2 separate regions of the Homo sapiens genome follow, and region 2 is linked to region 1. A link means that fine-mapping ties the variant in region 1 to the expression of a gene that starts in the linked region. Tissue or cell type: whole blood. Region 1 holds a variant in brackets; the other region holds the start of a gene. All regions are shown on one strand. Distances are between the middles of the regions.

Evidence for each region. PIP is the estimated chance that this variant, and not a neighbour inherited with it, causes the effect.
Region 2: PKN3 starts here. The variant in region 1 is fine-mapped to the expression of PKN3 in whole blood (GTEx, PIP 0.90).

Annotation. Positions count from the first base shown.
Region 1 is chr9:128,803,900-128,808,899 of GRCh38, reverse strand. TBC1D13 (TBC1 domain family member 13) reads right to left here. Exons shown (of 12, transcript NM_018201.5): 9 at 4,781-4,944; 10 at 2,881-3,041; 11 at 2,589-2,646; 12 at 1-1,086. The coding sequence ends at 1,021. Among named protein-coding and RNA genes, the nearest start is that of ENDOG, 12 kb to the left of the region's middle. The variant T/C (reference allele first, on the strand shown) is at 2,816.
Region 2 is chr9:128,700,556-128,705,555 of GRCh38, reverse strand. PKN3 (protein kinase N3) reads right to left here and starts at 3,053. Exons shown (of 22, transcript NM_013355.5): 1 at 2,617-3,053; 2 at 13-253. The coding sequence starts at 2,640. RefSeq lists an enhancer at 2,237-2,776 and a silencer at 2,591-3,160.

The sequences.
Region 1 (5,000 bases):
CTCCCTGGGCAGAAAGCAGGGGCAGGAGGCTCAAAGCTTCATCCTTACTCAGCAGCATTTGGTTTCCAAGATTTCTGTGTAGGGAACGGGTTCAGAACCCTCTAAGTGAGGCACGGAGGACTCCCTCCCAGTTGGGAGGACCTAGGAGCCAGGGCTGGGGGATGGGAACAGGAGGCAAAGGCCAAGCTTGACCTCCAGGGGCCTTGCTGAGCCAGTCTCCTCATCTGTCTCCCAGGTTCAGGGGAGCAGAGGCAAGCGGGGAGAGGAGGTGGCTCAGGATAAGGCACCCCAACAGAGAAGGGCAGGGAGAGTAATGGAGAGAGGAATCATGAAGCAAGACACAGTCCCACTCTGGGAAGGAGGTGGAAGGAGACAGGCAGAGAGGTAGAGACAGAGAAGGAGGGGCTGGGAGACCTGGAGGCCTGAGAGACCCTCACTCCCTAACACACACACACACACACACACACACACACACACACACACACACACACGGAGAAGATGCCTGGGGACTTGGGCCCACATTCACACCGACCGACTACAGACATCTGTGGGTGAGACAGACGGCAGGACTCAGCTTTCAGTGTCGCCTTCCCTGTGGAGCAGCCGAAGTGCCCCGCTCAGAAGCGGTTTCTGGCCCATTGGCCAAGCACCTCCCCTGAGTGGAGCCCAGGAGAAGACCAGAAGCAGGAACTGAGGCTGGGGCGGCAGAGCCGAGGCAGGGAGGGGCCCCTGCCAGCCTCCCAGTGCCAGAAACGGCCCTGGCCCAGGAAGGACAACTTCCCGAGCTCCAGCCCTCCTCAGTATCCTGGGCAAAGAGGGCAGAGTGCAGGGCAGGTGGGGAGCTGGGCGTGGCGGCAGAAGGAGCACGGCACAGTGTGTCCCCAGTGGGCATGGCCTGGGTCTCGGGCCGATCCTGTGGCTTCCCCTCAGGCTGGGTTCCTACAGGTTTCTATGTGTCCCGGGAGCCAGGGCACAGGGTCGGGAGGCTTCTCTCCGGAACATGGGCCTCTTGCCGCCGGGCTACTTTGAGTCTTGGAGCTCCTTGGCTTTCTGCAGGATCTGGCAGACATCTGTGATGGGGTAGTCCTGGGCACAGGAAAAGGCCAACAGTTGCCTCTGAAGCCACTTCACCCCTGCCACACCCACACCCTCCCTGCTGGGACCCGTTGCCATGCTGGATCCTGGGCCTCAGGGGCAGGAGCACAGAACACCAGGCATCCCACACTCCCCAACCCCCAGACCCCTGCATGCAGCTGACGCTACACCATGCAGCACCAACTCAACGATCCAAACACAACCACTCCCAGGCTCTTGCGGCCCTTTCCTCAGGACCAGACCGTGCTGCCTCAGCTCTCCCACTACTGCCACTGAACCCGAGCTCCCTCGTGTGGAGCCAGTAGGACTGGGCCAGTGTCTGAGCATCAGCGCGAAGTCCCAACAGCCCTGTGAGTGGCCACTGTGATTCTGCACTTTTTCCAGATCTGGTCCATGAAGTTAGGGAAAAGCAACTCTAGGCTGGGCTTGGTGGCTCACACCTGTAATCTCAGCACTTTGGGAGGCTGAGGTGGGCGGATCACCTGAGGTCAGGAGTTCGAGACCAGCCTGACCAAGATGGTGAAACCCTGTCTCTACTAAAGGTACAAAAATTAGCCAGACGTGGTGGCACACACCTGTAATCCCAGCTACTCGGGAGGCTAAGGCAGGAGAATCACTTGAACCTGGGAGGTGGAGGTTGCAGTGAACCGAGATTGCACCACTGCACTCCAGCCTGGACAACAGAGCGAGACTCTGTCTCAAAAAAAAAAAAACAACAACAAAGCAACACTAAGGCCACGTGCTGGTGAAGAAGCTGAGACCCAGAGATGCTGTAACTTGGCTTGGGTCACATGATGAGCACAGCAGAGCAAAACTGTGGACCTAAAGCTGTAGGCCCTTGAGCCCATGTTCTTTTTTTCTGAGACAGAGTCTTGCTCTGTCCCCCAGGCTGGAGTGCAGTGATGCGATCTTGGCTCACTGCAACCTCCACCTCCCAAGTTAAAGTGATTCTCCTACCTCAGCCTCCCAAGCAGCTGGGAATTACAGGTGCATGCCACCAAGCCCGGCTAATTTTTGTATTTTTAGTAGAGACGGGGTTTCGCCATGTTGGCCAGGCTGGTCTTGAACTCCAGACCTCAGGTGGTCCACCCACCCCAGCCTCCCAAAGTGCTGGGATTATAGGCATGAGCCACCGCGCCCGGTGAGCCCATGTTCTTAATCACTACACCCCACCCTCCTTCCCCGGGCCTGAGCATGGCCACCAGCAAGCACGGCCATGTTCTGGGCACCTGCTGTGTCCTAGGTGTGAACACCTACGTAGAGTACACGGTTTGAAGGCCAAGTCACTTGCTCAAGGCCACCCAACATTCCAGGTCAGTGGCAGAACCAGGATTCAAACCCAGATCCAAACCAGATCTGCTCAGGGGTCTGGACTTTAATCCCTACTACACTCCGCTGCCCCTGCCCAGCCTGTCGCAGCAGCTGGCGTGGGCAGGTGCCTGGCGAGTGCCAGCCTCATGGCAGTGGCTGAGCCTGCCCCCAACTCCCATTACCTGCAGCAGCCGCATATTCACAGTGAAGTCCCCTTCCAGCAACTGCTCCCGGATCAGCCTATGAAAAGCAGCAGCAAAAGCGCTGGGACCTGGGATGCTCTGAGTGCAGGCCCTGCCCACTCCTCCCTCCCTACCCACCTCAAGTTTGGTTTGTCGCCCTCCCAAGGACTCCAGAATCCCACTCCAGCCATGAAAGAGCAGCCCTGCCCACCCTTCGGGGCGGAGGG[T/C]CCTCCTGTCTGGCTTCTCCAAGGACTGCCCAGGTGAGCTGATGACAGCTCATGCCCGCACTCACATGAGCATGGCGCAGCAGACGAGGAGGAGGAAGTCAAAGCGGTTGTCATCGGCGAAGAGGGAGTCCCAGATGCGGATGACGTCAGGCAGCAAGAACTCCTGGGACAGCAGCAGTGTCAGCCAGCGGAAGGCAAAGAACTGAGGCTTGATGTTCTGCTCTTGCTGGGGAGACAGCGTGGGGGGTGGGGGGCATGACTCTGTGTTGGCTGCCGGCCATGGAGCACCACGCAGTGGGTCAGAAGTGAATTCAGAACAGCAGGGCCCAGCATGCCAGGTGTGAGCACCAGGGCTGGCACCAGGCTGCCGGACAGCCTTGCCTGGTAAAGGGGCGGAGCCTGTTTGCTGCCAGCCAACATCCTCAGATCTTCCTATTTTTTAAAGAGAAGCTGGAAACCCAAACCTTTATATAATAAGCTCTCCAGATTTATAAATGATGGCTCAAACTCTTTTCACACACTTTGCAGATGATAGCCTTGGGTTTGTGGATGTGCTGAGTGACCATCACAGGGCACTTACTAAAAGCCTGGGCTATGCTTAGAATATTAAATATGTCCTCTCACTCATTTAATCCACAGAACAATTCCACAGGCAATTATTCCCAGTAGAGACAAGCCTTCTGGTCAGCCACAGTGAATATTAACTGAAAAAGCATGCTACAAAACAGCAAAAGCATACTTCCTTTTTTTTTTAGAGATGAGGTCTCGCTATATTGCCTAGGCTGAAGTGCAGTGGCACAATCATGGATGGCTCACTGCAGCCTTGACCTCGAGGGCTCCTCTCTCAGCCTCCCGAGTAGCTGAGACTACAGGCCTGTGCCACCATGCCTGGCTAATTTGTTTTTAAATTTTTTGTAGAGACAAAGCTTCACTATGTTGCTCAACCTCTGGGCTCAAGCGATCCTCCCGCCTCAGTCTCCCAAAGTGCTAGGATTACAACTGTGAGCCATCACACTCAACCCATATTTGTTTAAAAAGATATCATTATTCCTGGCCAGCCAGGCACAGTGGCTCATGCCTGTAATCCCAGCACTTTGGGAGAGGGAGGTAGGCGGATCACTTGAGGTCAGGAGTTCGAGACCAGCCTGGCCAACACAGCGAAATCCCATCTCTACTAAAAATACAAAAACTAGCCAGGCGTGGTAACGCACGCCTGTAATCCCAGCTACTGGGGAGGCTGAGGCATGAGAATTGCTTGAACCTGGGAGGCGGAGGTTGCAGTGAGCTGAGATTGCACCACTGCACTCCAACCTGGCCTCTGAGAGAGAGAGTCCTTCTCAAAAAAAAAAAAAAAAAAAAAAAAACAGAAAAAAAAGGGCTGGGCACGGTGGCTCATGCCTGTAATCCCAGCACTTTGGGAGGCCGAGGCGGGTGGATTACGAGGTCAGGAGATCATCAAGACCATCCTGGCTAACACAGTGAAACTCCATCTCTACTAAAAATACAAAAAATTAGCCGGGCACAGTGGCGGGTGCCTGTAGTCCCAGCTGCTTGGGAGGCTGAGGCAGGAGAATGGCATGAACCTGGGAGGTGGAGCTTGCAGTGAGCCGAGATTGTGCCACTGCACTCCAGTCTGGGCGACAGAGCGAGACTCCATCTCAAAAAAAAAAAAAAAATGAAGTTAACACTTACCTCAGAAGACTACTAACAGCTTAACCAATTTAGTTCATAGTAAATGCCCTGCAGTATGCCTGGCACACAATGGGCACCATTCTCAACTTTCCCCTTCCCTCCCAGCTGGGCTCCACCATCAGCTGCCTCAGCACATGGGTCAGCGTCCCGGGCAGCAGCAGCAGCAGCTACTTCTGACCCCCAGACTCAAGCGAGACCTCGCCCTGGGCTGGGATGGCACAGCAACTCTCTGCCTCCTGTCCCTTTCCACCCGTCTGTTCCTGGGGTCCTCACCAGTTTCAGGTAGAGCTCCACATCCTTATCTTTCAAGGTGGAGTAAACCTTCTCCATCTTGTAGGTGATGCCACACTGCGAGTCATCCAGGCTCTTGATAAAGTTGTCCCGGATCTCGGCCATGAGGTTGGTGAAGCAGAAAAAGGTGTCTGCCTCGGCGTGCTCTGGGAGAGAGCAGGATGGGGGCAGAAGTGGCGCACTCCAGGCCCACCCCACCTCT
Region 2 (5,000 bases), 100 kb after region 1:
CTCCTCACTCACCAGCTGGGCCAGGCCCAGGGCCGGGCAGCAGGATTCGGGCGTGCAGCTCCCGCAGCTCGCCATGCAGCTGCTCCAGGCGGCGGTTGGAGGACCGCAGCAGCTGCTGCACATGGCCCAAGTGGCGGCGGTCTGTGGCCACGCGCCGCAGGTTCTCCACCCCCTCCTTGATCTTCAGCTCTTTCTGGATGGCCCGGCGGATCACCTCCTTCTCATCCTCTGGGGGCCACTGGCTCGGCCCAGGCTGCAGAGCCGGTGGAAAGCAGAGGGTGGAGAACAGCCATGGGGTGCAGCGGCCACCAGCAGCCTTTGCTCACTGCAGATGGAGGCGAAGGAAGGGACGGCACCCAGGACTGACTCGCACAGGGTTTTGGAAGCCTCTCTCCCCTTAGAGCTCAGGCCTGAGCCAGATGGAAACTCCGAGGCCACTCATCTAGGCCAGGCTCCTGTCCTCCGCCCGTTAGAGAAGGATGTGGCGGGGGGGACAGTTCACACGGTAAATGGGTGCCAGGTTCTATTCTAAGTGCTTTGCATATATTACCACATCACTCCTCCCAGCCACCCCACCCGGTAGCGGTGGTCATTACCCCCATTTTCTTTTTTCTTTTTCTTTTTCTTTTTTTTTTTTTTGAGACAGTTTTGCTCTTGTTGCCCAGGCTGGAGTGCCATGGCACGATCTCGGTTCACCACAACCTCTGCCTCCCGGGTTCAAGCGATTCTCCTGCCCCAGCCTCCTGAGTAGCTGGGATTACAGGCACACGCCACTAAGCCCGGCTAATTTTGTATTTTTAGTAGGGACGGGGTTTCTCCATGTTCGTCAGGCTGGTCTTGAATCCTGACCTCAGGTGATCCACCTGCCTTGGCCTCCCAAAGTGCTGGGATTACAGGTGTGAGCCACCACGCCTGTACTATTACCCCTATTTTCTAGTGAGGAAACTGAGGCCCAGAGAGGTGAAGTAACTTGCCCACAGTCAAGACACAGAGGAGGGGCCACCATCTCTCGGGCCCCAGCTGTCCCTGGCAGCCCTGGGTAATCAGGCTGCTCTCTCTACATCTGGGACCCAAAGTAGAGTCCAGGAGCCACAAAAGCTACGCCGAATAGGGGTTCACACGAAGCCACATGAGAAGGCAGCCAGGGGCCTGGGAGCCAGGGCTTGTTCCCCTGATGTCCCAATGCCACAGGTAGCAAAGCAGAGGCACAGAGAGGAACTGGGGAGGTCTCCGGGTGCCCACTCCCTGCTCAGCTCCCGGGAGGAAGTAGAAGGCTCTCTCACGGCTTCACCCAGGTTGGAGCCAGGAACAGGAACACCTCCTTTCCAGCCGCCAGCATTTCAAACCAACCGGTGCCAAAGGTGACCTCAGGCCGGGTAACCCATGATGCCCCGCAACACGGGCTGTTGCAGGAACCCCATCTTACCTCTCTGTGTTCCATCTTCTCCTGAGCCCAGTGGAAGGGGCCGCAACCCCAGACTCAGGGACCCCCCCACCCCAGACCTCAGCGGGGCCTGCTGGCCCAGCTGTCAGAGGGCAAGGGCGAGGCTCAGGAAATCCTCTGACCGCCCTAGGCCACAGGGCCAGAGCCAAAGACCGGAGCAAACAAAGGTCCCATGGAGCTGGGGGCCCGGCCACCGGGGTCCTGAGTCACCCAGCTGCCGCTGCAGGGCGGAGCCCCGCAGGAAATCGGAAAATGTGTACAAGCTACGTCTGGAACAGGCGGAGGGACCTCCAGAGGAAGGGGGTGGGAGGGGGCAGACCGAGCCCCAGCCCTGAAGGCGGCCTAAACGACTGGCTTGGGCGCTCAAGGAGTCTACACGCACCCCGCAACACCCCCATGGTCCCGTCTGCCCTGGGTTGGAACTCCAACATGGACACACACACCACCTCCTTTCCGCTCTTTGCGGGGACCCACTCCTGTCCGCAAATGCCCCCCTCCCAACCACTCGCTCCGGAACAGGACACCACCTCTCCCTCCTCAGGAGCAGATAGACATGGCCTCGGTCCTCCGGGCCCACGCGCACCTACTGCCAGCTCTGGCAGGAAACCCAGCCCCCTCCGCATTCTAGAACCCGCTATGTACCCAAAGGTTCCCGCCCTGGGGCGGGGGAGGCCGCTCCCCTCTCATCTACGCTCCCCTCGTGCCTCCTGTGCTCCGGGAAGGACTCCTGCCACTGCCAAGCGCGCACAGACTGCGCCCCCCGCTGCGCGCACATTCTAACCCCCCCAGGCCCCTGTGCCCCGCCTTTCTATCCCGGCTAATTCCCGTCGGCCTTGGAGCCCCACCGAGGAGAACCGACTTAAGGACACTCTGGGGACCACCCTGGTGGCGCACACTGCGGACTCAGCCGTCCTCGCTCACGGGCTGGTTGGGGTTCAGTCTCCGGGTCAGCCGCGGACTGATTTGGAGACTGTGCAAGGTCCAGGAACCACCGAACCCGGAGATCAGGTCTGCTCTGCGAGGGCGTCGCGGGGCCGGGGCCAGGGCAGGGGCAGGGAAGGGGCGCGGGTGAGGGGAGGATCGGGGGAAGCGGCCGCGGTTCGGGGCTCCGGGGCGATGACAGAGGCTTTCTCGCACCCCCCGGGCCCGCGCGCCCCTCCCACGCCGTTCACCTGCCGCGGCGCCCCCTCCTCCATGGCGCCGCTCCGGCCGCTTGGGGCCCTTCTCTCAGCCACTCCGGTCCCGGAAGCCGCAGACCCTCCGCCAGGACTTTCAAACTTGAAACTTCCCGGGAAGCGGCGCCGGAGACGCGGGATCGGGCGCCCCCTCCCGAGACCCGCTGGCCCGCGGGACCAGCGCCGCCTCCCGTCCGCGCCGATCCAGCGCCCGGGACCCCACGCCCGAGGTCCCGCGCCCCAGCGCCTCCCTCGGATCCAAAATTCCGCGGGATTCTGGGCCCAGTACCCGGGCTTCGGCGCCTGCGGTTCCCGCTGGGCGTGACCGCGCCTCACCCCCGGTTTGGACGCTCAGGAGGCACATCGCCCGCGCCCAGGTCCTCTGGCCTTCCCCGCCGCGCGCCCGCGGGAGCCGGCCAGTTAGGGACAGGGATGGGGGAAACAGCGCCCCCTGAAGGTTGCCGGGTCGCCCAGCCGGGTGCAGCCGGTGGAGCTGGCCGCCTCCTCTAACTTTGAGCCCCTCTACAACCTGGCTCCCGCCTCTAACGCGCTGGGCCTCCTCGACCAAGCCCCTCAAGTCTCTCTTTGTCTCGCACGTTGTTGGTGTAATGTGGGCTAATCCAAAATTGTCTCTCTCCTCGGAGTGGTTGGCCCAGACTAGATATTAGTCACTACAAGAATGTATACTAGGCCAGGTGCGGTGGCTCACGCCTGTAATCCCAGCAGTTTGGGAGGCAGAGGTGGACGGATCACGAGGTCAGGAGTTCGAGACCAGCCTGGCCAACATGGTGAAACCCCCGTCTCTACTAAAAATACAAAAATTAGCCGGTCGTGGTGGCGGGCGCCTGTAATCCCAGCTACTCAGGAGGCTGAGGTGGGAGAATCACTTGTACCCAGTAGGCGGAGGTTGCAGTGAGCCGAGATCCTGCCACTGCCCTCCAACCTGGGTGACAGAGCGAGACTCCATCTCAAAAAAAAAAAAAAAAAAAAAAAAAGAACGTATACTTGTGGAAAAGTAAATCCTCACCCAAAATTATGATAAATTACAAATTACAGATGAATGAACCAGACCTCTCTCCGGCCCATCTCTTACTCAGACTGAGCTTGCTGGTTCAGCCCGTGCCACTTTTTAGGGCTTTACCCTAAAAAGCCCATCCATCCACACGGGAGAAAAGCCATTTACACCTGGTGAAATAGCCGCCACTATTTCAGCCCAAGGGAGGTGTGCTGGTCACTGCCTAGTCTATGGCGGGCCATTCAGCCCGTCCTGGCATCCTGCGTTTACAGGAGGTTGTGTCAGCACTTCGTGGAGGAGCGTCCTCCAGGAGGTGGGAAGGTGATGAAGGGTCAAATACCGACAGTGACTTGGAACAGACAGGCTCTGGTGCTCTTACTGAATGAAGGAAGCCACATGTTGTGCTTTGCACTAATCACTTCCTTCATAATGGACTGGAAAAAAGTGAAATTGGTGAGCCATGGACAACACTGGGTTGTCCTGCTATGGGAAATCACCCAAGTGGCATTGACATATAAGCAAAGGCAACTTGGCTCTGTGAAACATGCCCAGATTTCATAATCAGAGGCGAAATGTGACATTTACACATTAGAGTTGTTGAGGTCTAGACATTAGCAGAAGCACCTGGCACATAGTAGGTTCTTTGACATGGGGGTTGGCTGGGCATGGTGGCTCATGCCTGTAATCCCAGCACTTTGGGAGGCTGAGGAGGGCAGATCACTTAAGGTCAGGAGTTCAAGACCAGCCTGGCCAACATGGTGAAATCCCGTCTCTGCTAAAAAAAAATTAAAAAGGCAGCTGGGCGCGGTGGCTCACGCCTGTAATCCTAGCACTTTGGGAGGCCGAGGCAGGCGGATCACAAGGTCAGGAGTTCGAGACCAGCCTGGCCAACATGGTGAAACCCCGTCTCTACTAAAACTACAAAAAAAAAATATTAGCTGGGCATGGTGGTGGGTGCCTGTAATCCCAGCTACTAGGGAGGCTGAGGCTGGAGAATCACTTGAACCTGGGAAGTGGAGGTTGCAGTAAGCCAATCTCGCCACTACACTCCAGCCTAGATGACAAGAGCAAAACTGCATCTCAAAAAAATACATAAAATAAAAAATTAGAAAAACTAGCTGGGCGTGGTAGCGCACGCCTGTAGTCCCAGCTACTCGGGAGGCTGAGGCAGGCAAATCACCTGAATCTGGGAGGCAGAGGTTGCAGCGAGCTAAGATCACGCCACTACACTCCAGCCTGGGCAACAGAGCAAGATTCTGTCTCAAGAAAAATAAATAAATAAAAATAAAATAAAATGGAGGTTAAATGAACGTTATTATCCATCATTTAGAAGCAAAAAGGCTGACCAAGCCCAGTGGCTCATGCC